Homo sapiens: one gene and its partners. The protein of the gene in region 3 purifies or fractionates together with the protein of the main gene of each other region. This does not show direct contact. Each region holds a gene or a part of one and is shown on either strand. Other genes may lie near its edges. The genes, in order: DIRAS1, GABPA, NCOA7 and RAB3GAP1.

Evidence for each region.
Region 1: the proteins of NCOA7 (region 3) and DIRAS1 purify together in Homo sapiens (affinity purification with mass spectrometry; one large-scale study listed by BioGRID and IntAct). This does not show direct contact.
Region 2: the proteins of NCOA7 (region 3) and GABPA fractionate together in Homo sapiens (co-fractionation; one large-scale study listed by BioGRID). This does not show direct contact.
Region 4: the proteins of NCOA7 (region 3) and RAB3GAP1 fractionate together in Homo sapiens (co-fractionation; one large-scale study listed by BioGRID). This does not show direct contact.

The regions. Positions count from the first base shown.
Region 1 is NC_000019.10:2,716,187-2,718,511, forward strand, and holds part of DIRAS1 (GTP-binding protein Di-Ras1), read right to left. Parts: exon of another isoform or gene 2,126-2,325; coding exon of another isoform or gene 2,093-2,125; intron 1,690-2,092; coding exon of another isoform or gene 1,621-1,689; coding exon 1,024-1,620; 3' UTR 1-1,023. UniProt on the Homo sapiens protein: Displays low GTPase activity and exists predominantly in the GTP-bound form.
Region 2 is NC_000021.9:25,751,849-25,755,520, reverse strand, and holds part of GABPA (GA-binding protein alpha chain), read right to left. Parts: intron 3,533-3,672; coding exon 3,287-3,532; intron 1-3,286.
Region 3 is NC_000006.12:125,877,947-125,881,618, forward strand, and holds part of NCOA7 (nuclear receptor coactivator 7), read left to right. Parts: intron 1-316; coding exon 317-424; intron 425-3,143; coding exon 3,144-3,257; intron 3,258-3,672. UniProt on the Homo sapiens protein: Enhances the transcriptional activities of several nuclear receptors. Involved in the coactivation of different nuclear receptors, such as ESR1, THRB, PPARG and RARA.
Region 4 is NC_000002.12:135,132,282-135,135,953, reverse strand, and holds part of RAB3GAP1 (rab3 GTPase-activating protein catalytic subunit), read right to left. Parts: intron 3,060-3,672; coding exon 2,970-3,059; intron 2,094-2,969; coding exon 1,921-2,093; intron 690-1,920; coding exon 635-689; intron 391-634; coding exon 22-390; intron 1-21. UniProt on the Homo sapiens protein: Catalytic subunit of the Rab3 GTPase-activating (Rab3GAP) complex composed of RAB3GAP1 and RAB3GAP2, which has GTPase-activating protein (GAP) activity towards various Rab3 subfamily members (RAB3A, RAB3B, RAB3C and RAB3D), RAB5A and RAB43, and guanine nucleotide exchange factor (GEF) activity towards RAB18.

The DNA of each region.
Region 1 (2,325 bases), on a different chromosome or scaffold from region 3:
GCAGGTACACTCGACTCCAGGACGCCACCTTCCCGGGCAGGCCCTGCTCTCTGGGGCACAGGTGGTGGGGAGGAAGTGGGTGGGGCAGACCTCTGTCCGGGGCGCCCTCGGATCCTGCTGGTGCTGGCTCCCATCGGCTGTCCCCCCACGGGGGTGTAATTGATGTATCTCTGGCCGGGGCCCCGGGTACCCCCTCCTGAGCACCCCAGGTCCCCACCCGCCATGCGTTGCTAACGTCTCTGTCTTGGTGGAAGAGGCGGGTCCCGGGTGGGCGGTGTCCGGGAAGCCCCTCCACGCCCATGGTGCCTCTCCAGCGGGGCAGTTGTGCTGTGGATGTGGCTGGTCCCGGGGGTGGGATTCGGGGCTGGCAGGGGCACTGCTGCAGGCCCTGTGGTTATTGCCTGGTGGCCTGAGGCCCATCCCACGGGCCCCACACCCCACTGTGAAGACAGAGGAGAGAGGTGCGTCTGGAACCGGAGGAGTGGGCACAGATCAGAGGTCACGACGGGCCGGGTGGGCTTGGGTGTATGTTAACACCAAATAGGAGAAAAAAGAAAAAAATATCTGAGGCCGATGTGCATTTTCAACTCCCCCCTCCCCCAGAAGGTCACAGTGATCAAATGTGAGGGACAGGACGCGCAGGTCTGGCTGGGGACACCCCAGGGAAAGAGATGGAAACGGGGAAACGCAGCCTCCTCTGGTCCTGGTGGGAACAAGCAGCTCCTCTTGCCAGCTCCCCATCCTGTTTTCCCATCTGCAGGACAAGGGGGCCACCTCCGGCTCTTGGTTTTGGAGGGTACAGACAGAACAGGAGGGTGGAGAGAGAGCAGGGGAGGAAGAAAAGCCCCAGCCCTGCCTCGGGGTGGGCAGGGGCAGCGGAGGGGGGGGCGGTGGCCTCGGTTTCCCCAGCCGAGGTGTCGGAGGAAGGATGAGAGAAGAGGAGGAGGCCGAGGAGGGTGTCGGTGTTGGGGGAGGCAGCGGGGGTCAGTGGGGGTGGGCGGCGGGCAGGCGGGCGTTCCGGGCTCACATGAGGGTGCATTTGCCCTTGACGCGGTCTGTCCTCTTCTGCTTCCCGGAGCGCTTGCCGTCGATGTTGAGGCTCATGTTCCGGCGCGTCTCCAGCGTCAGCAGCTCCTGGAAGAGCTCCTTGACGTTGTAGTTCATCTTGGCCGAGGTCTCCATGAAAGCGCACTTCCACTCCTGGGCCACCGCCTGCGCCTCGCGCGTGTCCACCTCCCGCTGCGTCTCATCGCACTTGTTGCCCACGAGCATCACGGGGATGTCCTCCACGCTGCCCTTGATCTGCACGATGAGCTTGTAGATGGGCCCCAGCTCCTCCAGCGACTGCTTGCTGGTGACGGAGAACACCAGGATGAAGGCGTGGCCCTTGGAGATGGACAGGCGCTGCATGGCCGGGAACTGGTGGCTGCCGGTGGTGTCTGTGATCTGCAGCGTGCACACGCTCTTGTCGCAGCTGATCACCTGCCGGTAGGTGTCCTCGATGGTGGGGATGTAGGTGTCGCGGAACGTGCCCTTCACGAAGCGCAGCACCAGCGAGCTCTTGCCCACGCCGCCCGCCCCGAACACCACCACGCGGTAATCGTTACTCTGTTCCGGCATCTTCCCCGCGGCGGGTGGGCGGCCGGGGCCGGGAGGGCTGGTGCCAGCTGCAAGAACCCCAGACCGAGCCTGTGCAGAGAGGAGGGTCACACGTCAAAGGCCACCCAGGCTTGAGGGGACAGCCCCACGCCCCGGGGAGGGAGGAGGACATGGCGGCTTCTCAGAGGAGGTGGCTGCCGTGCCTCCTGCCTCCTGAAAAGGCCCATTTGCTTGTGGCTGACTTTGCAGTTCTGTCCCACAGGCGGGCGCACAGCCAACACCCTTTGCTTACTTCTCCCTAACAAAATCTGGGGCCTGAGCTTCCCCGGGGGACGCTGAGCTAGGAGAGGCGTGGGAGACGCCGGGATGCCCACGAAACTCCTTCCCCGGGTGTGGGTGTCCCTTCCAGGCTGTGCCAGCTTCCCCCTCTCTTCCCAGTGTGGCAGGGGCCCCTGGAAGCTAGCAGGCCTGGCTTCCACCTCTCGCTCCACACCTGCCTGGCTCTGAGACCTTGCCGAGCCATCATGCCACCCTGAGCCTGTTTGGTGGCTCAAACGGTGCCCGTCTCCAACAACCATGGGTCCCCTGCTCTTCCGCCAACCCAGAGATGGCCAATCCTCATGGAAGCCGCACATGGTCGGGTGTTTAAGATGCATATGTCAGGGCCGCAGCCCTAGGTGTGATGAATCGGTCGGCCAGGGCAACGGCCCTGGGAACTCGTATTTT
Region 2 (3,672 bases), on a different chromosome or scaffold from region 3:
TACTGCTGACAGGTATCTGCAAAAAGATCTATAAATATTGACACGTTTGAAACTCTTTTCTTTGCCCTTTTTTTTTTTTTTTTTTTTTAGACAGTCTTGCTTTGCCACCCAGGCTGGAGTATAGTGGTGCCATCAAAGCTCTCTATAGCCTCAAGCTCCAGAGCTCAAGCAATTTTCCCAGCTTAGCCTCCTAGGATATTGGTGTATGCCACCATGCCCAGCTCTTTTTTCTATTTTTTGGAGACAGTCTGGCTATATAGCCCAGGCTGGTCTCAAACTCCTGGCCTCAAGAAACCCTCTCACCTCAGCCTCCCAACGTGCTGGGATTATAGGCATGAGCCAACACACCTGGCCTGAAATTCTTTTAATGAAATAGTCAATGCCTCGTTTTATCAGCATATAGTTATCAAATCCTTCAGAACTTCGCATTAATTAGCTTTAAAGTTATTTACTCTTATTTTTTTTCTTTCGAGATGGAGTCTCACTTTGTTGCCCAGGCTGGAGTGCACTGGTGCAATTTCGGCTCACTGCAACGTCCGCCTCCCAGGTTCAAGAGATTCTTGTGCCTCAGCCTCCCAAGTAGCTGGGATTACAGGCATGTACCACCACGCCCAGCTAATTTTTGTGTTTTTAGTAGAAACAGGTTTTACCATGTTAGCCAGGCTGGTCTCAAACTCCTGGCCTCAAGTGACCCACCTGCCTCAGCCTCCCAAAGTGCTGGGATTACAGGCATGAGCCACTGTGCCTGGCCTAAAGTGATTAATTCTTAAATATGAAAAGATGGGCAAAAATAATTAGATACTTGGGAAAGGTTAAAAACAACACAAACAAAAACCACAAGAAAAACAGAATCCACAAGAAACAGATATACCACGGTAAAGCTTTTTAAAAGTTAAAAAAAAATATATAATCAATATACTCAGAGAAGTAGGAGAAAACACGATATTGGCAATATAAGATCAGAATGCTACAGAAAGGAACAAACAAAAATGAAGAGCCCTTGTAAATTAAAAATCAGATAGGTTATATTAAAAACACAAGAAAATCTGGCAGAAAGTAGTGCAGATAGGTAAGATGAAAAATAAACAAGAAAAAAGATGCAGCAGATCAACTCAAGAGATTCAACAGGAGTTCCAGCAAAAAGAACACAGGTATTTATCAAAATAATGCAGTAAGAACATCCAGAACTGAAGGCTACAATTATCAAGATCAGGGCTGTCCAACAGAAATACAATGCAGACCATTATGTAATTTTAAATTTTCTAATAGTTACATTTAAAAAGTTGGTCAAATACATCTTAATAATGAATTTATTTTAACTTAATGTTCCAAATGTTATTTCAACTGGTAATTAATATAAAAAATTAGAAAAGATTTTATACTTTTTCTTTTAATGGGTATTTTTACATTTACAACCCATCTTAATTTTGACCAGAGACACTTCAAGTGCTGACGTGTGATTAGTGGCTACAGTACTGGGCAGCGGAGGGACAGACTGAAATTCTACATTAGCTGTCTGGTTCCATAGCTCTCTTTCAGTTCCATGGGTAAGCTCTCTCATTTACTGTGTATCTTTTAGGTTTGGTTTAAAGAAAGAAAAAAAATGTCCTAGGGAAAACAGTGGTTCTACAATACAGCCTTTCTGTCATCAGCCCTGCTCCCCAGGTACAACCTTGTCTCTAAAAATAAAAAATAAAAAAAGGACAAAAACCCGACAATACTGTTTCATTTACAAATACACTCAGGTCCCCGCCAACTCTTGGAAGATCAGTATTATTTATTTGTTACCCCAGCATTCTTCCTCATCTGCCCCCATTTCTAAGATATCTATTTCTTATAATTCTGTTTTGTCTCGCCAACTCTAGTTACTTCTGTCTAAATTTAAGAATAATCCTCTGATCATCAAATTTAATAGATATCAGTCAGCATTCTTTGACTTTCTCAGCAGCATCTGAGAGTCTTGACCATCCAAACTCTCCCCTCAATTTCAGTGACACTATACATATAAGTTATTACTTTCTTTCTGTCTCTTCAGTTATTTCTTGTCTCCCTTTTCTCCAACCCTAAATGTTTACAGGGTCAAGTGTATATGCCTTTAGTTGTGTGTTCTTTTCCATTTCTCGCTTTCCATCAGGGACTACGTAGACTTTTATAGCTTCAAATATAAATTCAGTGGGAATGAGTCTCATATAACATCTTTGTCTCCAGCCCAAATCTTATATAACTGAAACCATTTTCTGGCTAACCTCCAGCTGAATATAAACTTCCACATCAAAATCAAGTGCTATCCACCTTCTCTTGAAAAAAACATTTCCTATACCAGACTTCTCTACTTCCCCAACTGGGCTTTTGAAAGCATGCTCTTCATAGTGCACCATCTTAATTAAGCCCAGCATTTAACATGGTGCCTGGTGTACGGTAGTGTTCACTAAATATGTAATGATGATGGAACCAATTTTTATCAAGATTATTACTGTTTTAGTCACCAAGATGAAGCTTGAGAAGTTAGATCAATACTTGTATCTTCCCTCTCTACCCTCATAAAATCTGTCAATCTGCTCAGTCCTATCACTGTTTTCATCCACTTTTTCCTTGCTACTCCCAAAGAAATCATCTGGAGTCTGGGCTAATGTAGACATTATCATCCAGTCACAACTATAATAATATGCTCCTGTTTTCCCTTCACTTAGTCTCTACCTGTTCCAACTTATGCCATATATTGCCACCATATTCATTTTTCAATTATCATTTTCATCAATCAAAAACAGTTCTGTAATGCTACAGAGTAACTCCTTAACCACTCCATTTTCTCACTACTCATGCATACCCCCAGGTCTAAGCTTTGCACATAACATTTCCTGTCTTAAATGTCTTTCTCTGCCCAATGGTATCTTATTTATAATAAACTCTTTTCAGCTTTCCCTCAGGGCAACTATGATCTCTTTGAGATTCCAATAGCATACTTCTACAAGAGTTACTGGCAGTTTAAAAACATGTTACCTTTTATGGCAATCATCTCTTTTCATCTATCTTCTCTCTCTTCAACTACACTCTCAACACCCTAAGAGCAGAAATTTTTTAGACTTCTTTGTATTTCCTGCACGCAGGACAGAATTTGTCCACCACATGAGCTTAAATGTGCGTTACAATTAAAAGAGAGATACAGAAAATCAACATTCATCCTAATAACTCTACATGTAAAATAGATTATAACTTACCCTAGTGTCTTCTATGTCAAGCTTAATTCCTATTATTCTACCCAATATAGAATTATGCATTTTATTACCATAGGGTATCCCAAGGCGTTCTTGTTCTTTCCTATAGCCTTCCAGTGCAGCAGCCCATCTTGTCACTTGTTCTGAAGTTTCATCTGAAATGGTTGTGATGTGTTTTGTGCCATCAAGAGTTATCACTTGAGCTTCTTCAACAAGATGTGCTTCTGATTCAGCATGGTGGGCATCTGGATCAATAACAACCTCAACAGTGTCCGCAGGTTTAACAATTTCAAGGATGTTTAACTTTGGTTCAATTCCTGAACAGTGGATAAAAAAAAATTGTAAATCTAAATGAAAACGCAGAAGTCACCAAAAAATAATTTAGTTTATATGTTCCCAAATGGTAGAGAAAAACTACATCGAATAAAGCAAATGTAGTAAAAGTTAACATTTGGGG
Region 3 (3,672 bases):
TTCTTTTCTTGTTGTAGTCTTCATTACAGCTCACGGACCTTTACTTCATGCGCCTCAGTTGCACCAAAGTAAAATTAGAAATCTATTAGGGGACAGTGAAATTTGAAAATGAGGAAGCCCAGAAATGAATTGCATTTAAGACTTTGCTGTAAAATGATTTTATTAAGAATTGACAATGTATTCATTCTTTCTTATAGTCTATCTTGATGGAACTATTAGTTTGTTATTTATTCATATTGCAGATAAATTAATAGTATCTATCAAAAGTAATTTTTTTTGCTTTATTTATTGACTCTTACCTGTTTGATTATTCTAGGCTGGAAACCAGGACACCCTAAACTCCATAGCACTGAAATTTAACATCACTCCCAATAAATTGGTGGAACTGAATAAACTTTTCACACATACTATTGTTCCAGGCCAGGTAATTATACTCTTACTGGATATAACTCTAGAAATTCTGCATTTATCTTTTATTGCCGTTTTCAGTGCCTCACTATTGTTTGTCACAGGATTATGATAAATGATAATGTGCTTTGGTTCAATATTTTCTCTCCTTTATTTTTATTTATTTATTTTTTGAGACAGGGTCTTGCTCTGTTGCCCAGGCTGGAGTGCAGTGACACCATCATGGCTCACTGCAGCCTCAATCCCCTGGGCTCAAGCAATCCTCCCACCTCAGCCTCCCAAGTAGCTGGGATTACAGACATGAGCCACTGCACCCAGCTCAACTTTACGATATTTTCATATTCACAGGATACCTTGGCTACACATGCTTAAAATTTTTTTCCAGGCTGAAATGACAGCATTGCTGTATGGTTAAGAACTTTAAGACCTCAAATCCTGATTGGCATATGTGTTGGGAGCAAACCCAAAATTATTTTCTGAAGGCAATAGGAAACTTTCACCCCTGCCCATGATCCAGGCTCACTTCCATGTTGAGGTAGCACATGTTCTGGCGGCTGCTCACCTCTCTTTACAGTGCAGTCAACTGTTTAAGCACAGGAATTACTCCTTAGATTTGACATTTGGAATGTTCAGACAATTGAATCGCAATCTATGTTACCTAATACTTTTTTTAAGAGTTCAGATGCAAAAAAAATTTACTATTAGTGGAGAATTGCTTGGGAAAAACATCATCCATCCATTACTCTAGTTTAGCTATATAAGATAAATAAGAGCTATATACCAAGATCACAAAATTTTAGTCCTTTGTAAATTGCTTTTTACAGAACTCTAAACTTTGGCATTTCCATTGACCCATATTGAAGATGCTATAAAAGGCAATACTCCAAAACTGGTTATTGTATTTACTGTTAGTGCATCATAGAGGACAAATAATTCAGTCTAGGATGCTCCTTTGTATGAGATTCTGTAGGAGAGTACTTGTACTTCTGAGAAACTTCATTTTTATCTCATGGAAGTTGAATTCTGCTAACTAATGATGTTGTCTCTTTGCATTAATTATATGGAAACTCAGAGTCACTTTTATGGCCCACTTCTTAATGAGTGGTTACCAGTTTTGGTGCATATATTTTTAGTAGTTATCAGTCCTCATCTTATATCCCCCCTTGACTTTGATTTTCCCACTTTTATTTTAATGTGTTTTTTTATTGTTGTCTCAAATATTTTCTGGATTGAAGTGAGGTTTAAATGACTGGAAAGATAGGAGACAGTGAATAACAATATTGATCAGTAATCAGTTGTTATATGATTAGCTCTGAATTCTGTTTTATAACATTAAAGGTCATCATTTTAAGATTATATTTGGCCGGGCACAGTGGCTCATCCTTGTAATTCCAGCACTTTGGAGGCCAAGGTAGGCAGATCACTTGAGGTCAGGACTTCAAGGACAGCCTGACCAACATGGTGAAACCCCATCTCTACTAAAAATACAAAAATTAGCCAGTAGCCAGGCTTGGTGGTGGGTTCCTATAATCCCAGCTACTTGGGAGGCTGAGGCAGGAGAATCTCTTGAATGTGGGAGGTGGAGGTTGCAGTGAGCTGAGATTATGCCACTGCACTCCAGCCTGGGTGACAAGAGTGAAACTCCATCTCAGAAAAAGACAAAAGATTATATTTGATACATGCCACAATGTAGCATGTCTCATTAAAAGAATATTGAATGACAGGATTGTAGTAATGTTTTGAGAACCAGAATGTTTTGCAGAGGTTGCTATTCTGTATAATTTTTTGGGGTGGGGGTAGTTTTTAGTTACACATAACCCAGACACTGTTGGAAGAGAAAATATTGGGATTATTTTATTGATATTACCTTATACAATTTATCATATAAGGACCTACTGCTTTAGAACTCAGAGCCTGCTTGGAGTTAGCAAGCTGGGTTTGTTCCATTTCTACCTGGCACAGATATTAAGTTTAGAAGCCATGCTTCTCTCTCCTCATTTCCCTTATACTATTAGTCTCCCACCTTGGAGGGCTCTTCCCTCTCTCCTATCCAATTTCTACTTGTTCTTCAAGGCTTCAGTTGGACCCACTTGCTTCACTTGGCCTGCCCAGAATACTTACCCACCTTGCTCTCTCTTTTCTTTTTATTTATTTATTTATTTATATTTTATTTTATTTTATTTTATTTTTTGAGGTGGAGTCTCCCTCTGTCACCCAGGCTGGAGTGCAGTGGCACGATCTTGGCTCACTGCAACCTCTGCCTCCTGGGTTCAAGAGATTCTCCTGCCTCAGCCTCCCCGAGTATCTGGGACTACAGGTGCGAGCCACCATGCCCAGCTAAATTTTTTTGTATTTTTAGTAAAGACAAGGTTTCACCATGTTGGCCAGGCTGGTCTCAAACTCTTGACCTCAGGTGATCTGCCCACCTTGGTCTCCCAAAGTGCTGGGATTACAGGCATGAGCCACTGTGCCTGGCCTTGCTCTCCCTTTCTTTTTGAGTTCTTGCAGTGTCTACAGGCATGTTCTGTACCCTTTGTACTACACACATTCATATGCTGAGTATCATTTCATGGATTAGTCTAGAAAACCGTAAGTTGCTTATGAGTTTCTTGAAAGCAACCTAGGTCGTAATCATGCACTGAACATGATACTGTGTAGAGAATAACTTCTCCAAACACTCACTAGTGGTTTGCCTGGTTGCTGGTACTCACCCATCTGTTCTCTCCCATTCTCAGGTCCTTTTTGTGCCAGATGCCAACTCTCCTTCCAGTACCTTAAGGCTATCATCATCCAGTCCTGGTGCTACTGTCTCTCCTTCATCATCAGATGCAGAATATGATAAATTGCCTGTATGTATATTATGCACTGAAGTTCATTTTTATTAAAGAGACTTCTTTTAAGTTGTAGAATTCAACATGTTATTTTTCACAAGATTACATCTGAAATTCTCCCTAGATGGTTGAGATTAGGTAATTGGAGAATGCATCCTCTCCAAGGGAAACTTATTCACATTTAAGGTTTCAAAGGCAAAAATGGCCAGACACAGTGGCTCAGCCTGTAGTCCCAGCACTCTGGGAGGCCGAGGCAGAAGGATTGCCTGAGCCCAGGAGTTTGAGACCAGCCTGGGCAATATAGTGAGATTCTGTCTCTACGAAATATTTTAAAAATTAGCCAGACATGGTGGCTCAAACCTGTAGTCCCACCTACTCAGGAGGCTGTGGTGGGAGGATCACTTGAGCCTGGGAGGTTGAGGCTGTGGTGAGC
Region 4 (3,672 bases), on a different chromosome or scaffold from region 3:
GAAAGAACTAGTGCATCCTACCTGGGTTACTGGAATGTAGAGAGGTTCTCCATTATGCAGCAGTGTAAGTTTCCCATGCTGATAGAGCCGTCCTTCCGGCCTTAAATTTGCCATCTCCTTAGGTCCTCCTTTCTTGCCACTCTCTTGTCCATTTCCTTTAAGTTCTTCAGTATCACTTAGGCATTCAAAAAATTCTTCTTCGCTGTCACTCCAGGAATCCCAAGATTTTCCTACCTCTCCCTTTTCCTTATCTGTTTCTTTTAGATTATCTGGCACCAACTGGTCTCCTGCTTTTCCAGCATCCCCTGGATATATATTAGTGACATCTGAAGCACTTGTCTTTTTCCCCTCATCACGTGCCTTCTTTCTTTCAATACAACAATTTAACATCTTAAGAAAAGAGAAATAACATTTATAGTTGAATTAGTTACAGAAAAATAAAAATCTACCTACTGCTTGAATATTTAATTTTCACTCTCCACTTCTCAGGACCTTGTGAATTGCAGTGACTACTGACTATAGGCAACCTACAGCAGCACCATGAGAACAGCATGTAACCCATTATTACATTTAGTATTAGAATAATCTGATTAAATCAAGACCACATTTATCCATGTCATTGAGAAATCTTTACCTGTAGTTTCTGATGCAGTAAACAACACCTCAGATCTGGGGGTCCACTTGCTAATCTATCAAATAAAGTAAGGAGAAAAGAAAGCTTAGTTTTAGTAAAATTGCTTCAGATATGATTATTTTCTATACTACCATAATTTTTAGCTATATTGATAAGAAATCAAAACTAGATTTCCACAGGTAAGGTAAGTGAATTCCAGAGGGGGAGCACATAGAATTAAAAGATGAAAATTTATTTTATACTCCTTGTCCACAAATCACCAATAGCAAATATAATAGATATTTCAAAACATAACAGCAAATTAGTGATAGTTTTCAGGCTAACAAAAACTCAAAATGAGAAAAAGCCCCTGAACCCACTCCAGGAAGTACTAGCATACAGTATTTCACACCATACAAAATAAATCAGTTTGTGTATTCAGTACTAAATTCTTACAGTGGATTCTCACTATAAAAACCAAGATCTCCACCTGTATTTCAATAGGACCTTGGACTGTCTCTAGTTCTAGGTTCCTCTAGACTACTAGGTTCCCAGCAATCAGCCAGAGGCACTCCCTCATATTCAACATGCTTCTGGGTCTGTAAAATGTTCCAGAGCGGACTGTCTAAAACCAAGAGAGAATCCAGCTAAGCAGAGATTGGCAAATGATATAAATGTTTTTGGATCAGTAATCATTTTATATTGCTCAAAATCATGATTCTCCTATCATAGCATGGGTAGATGAGCACTAAACTATGCAATATCAACCTATGTGCTAATGAAAATGTTCTGTTTGATTAAGTAAAATGTCAATTACAAAAAACAGGTTTATTACAAAAGACTTTGAAAATGCATAAAAGTATAAAGAACAAAATAAAAGTATAATTTCACACTGGGAAAAACTGATAGCATTTCACAGTATTTATAATATTTTTCCTGTACAAATATAGCAACATAATTAAAAGTACTTTGTATATGCATTAAAATATTCTACTTTATTAGAAACAATATGAACATCTGTTATTAAAGATTATTGGGGGAAAAACTGTAATCAATCTAATTTTCTATTGTAGAGATACAGTATAATTTATTTAACTATTCTTTTATGTTTGATATTTAGGTTTTGCCTTTTTTTCTATTATATTAATAAATTTGCTGCAGTGAACACCTCTGAACATAAATCATGTCTAAGCTTCTTGCCACTTTCTTAGGGCAGACTTCCTAGAAGGGGGAAAAAATAGGTCAAAAGTCAAATGTCTGCTAACAAACAAAATCGTATCCAAACAATTGAAAATTGAAATTATTACCCTGGAATCAGAAAGTTGTTTTCCCATCGGAAACGCATTTCAAGAACAAATTCCTGCCAGAGGTGTGCCACTCCTTTCAACCCTCCATGGTAAAAATTGATCATACAGAGACACAAAGCCAGTTTGTATGTTAAACTGTCAGATGGTGCAGACTTGAACTGATTGTAGAGATTCTAAATTTAACAAAATAGAAACAAAGCAAACTTGTTACCAAAATATTTTACACATATAACTGAAAAGGTCGTAGGGAGAGATTTTAATTGTAAAATTAACCTATCCCACCTAAACTAGGCATTATCAAATGTCTAATACACTACTGCATAAACTATTCTTAGGAAGTCCCACATTTTCAAGATTTCTACTAAGATTAAAAAAGATAAAGCTATAGTTTAATGAAGCTAAAGTTACAGCTTTCAATTTCTTCTGTGGAATATTTAGGAAGTATTCCAAATTTCATGTGTTGTTTTAAAAATCTTTTAATTACAAAAATGAGCACGTCTGAAAAAACAAAAATCATAACTATCTAAACTGAAAATGTAAAAAGCCTTTGCTTTTTTCTCTCACCTCATCAAATCTACTTCTCAACAATAACTACTGTAAAGGTTGATATATATCTACACTTGTCATTTAAATTCTTCAACTTCTTAATTTTTCAAAGACTAGACAAAGAGACCATGAAAATTTTACCTAATTTTACACATTTTACTTCATTAAAGAGTTGTCCATTCACTAACTAGTTTTAAAATATCAAAAAGAATCTGCTGAGAAACACAAATTTAATGATTTCACCAAAACTCTACAATGAGGGAAATCCTACAGCTGTGTAGAGTATATTTGTGCTATTTTTTCATTGTTTCCAGAAAAATTCTTGCTACCCAAAATATGTATCTGTGCTAGTTATCTAAGTGGAAACCACGATCTGCCATCCAAAATTCCCAAGGTGATTTTTAAAATAAAAATATAGTAAGCTATTAAACTAGAAATATATAGAACCTCTAGAAATTCAGTGCATTTAAAACATTTTAACATTGAACTCCACATCAACTTACATAGTCTTCACTCTCTGATGGAGGATTATTATTATCTGTTGAAGTAGTTCCATCTAATGGTTTCTCAGAAACAGCATCAGGGAATAAGAACTTGAAGGAAAGGAAAAAAATAATCACATTTTAGACCACATTTCCTATTTTGTTGATTTTTATAACTCATATAGACATTATTTAACTTTTTAATGGTTTTGCTGCTCTAACAATAGAAATGTTCCAGTTGTATTGGCCAGTTTGTTCTACACTCTCAAATTTTTTCTATTTTTCTTTGAAAATATACAAGGTTTCAGTGACTAGCCAATTTTAGAAATTAGAATTTTTTTCTTAAAAGTAATCACTTGATTCTGTAAGCTGAAAGGTGCAAAAGCAAAATCTCATCACTGTGACTTCATGCTCACCCAAGGCCATTACATTTTTTTAGTGTTACTACTATCTAAAAAACAAAACCACAAAAGACAATTTAAAAACACTCATGTACTCATGAGGATCTGAAGAGTTACATCATCCACAGGCTTTCATATATAGACTACTAAGAGATGATATTCAAGACCCACAGCTTTATTTTATGATACCCCTGGAAAGTAGGAAGCAGTCTAAACCTATAATAACCAATGTACCTTTTCCATGTGGTTTCTGTTTATATGTACATGTACGAGTGGTCAAAAAAAAATCCAGTGTACATGACAACTGAGCTACATGATTTGAA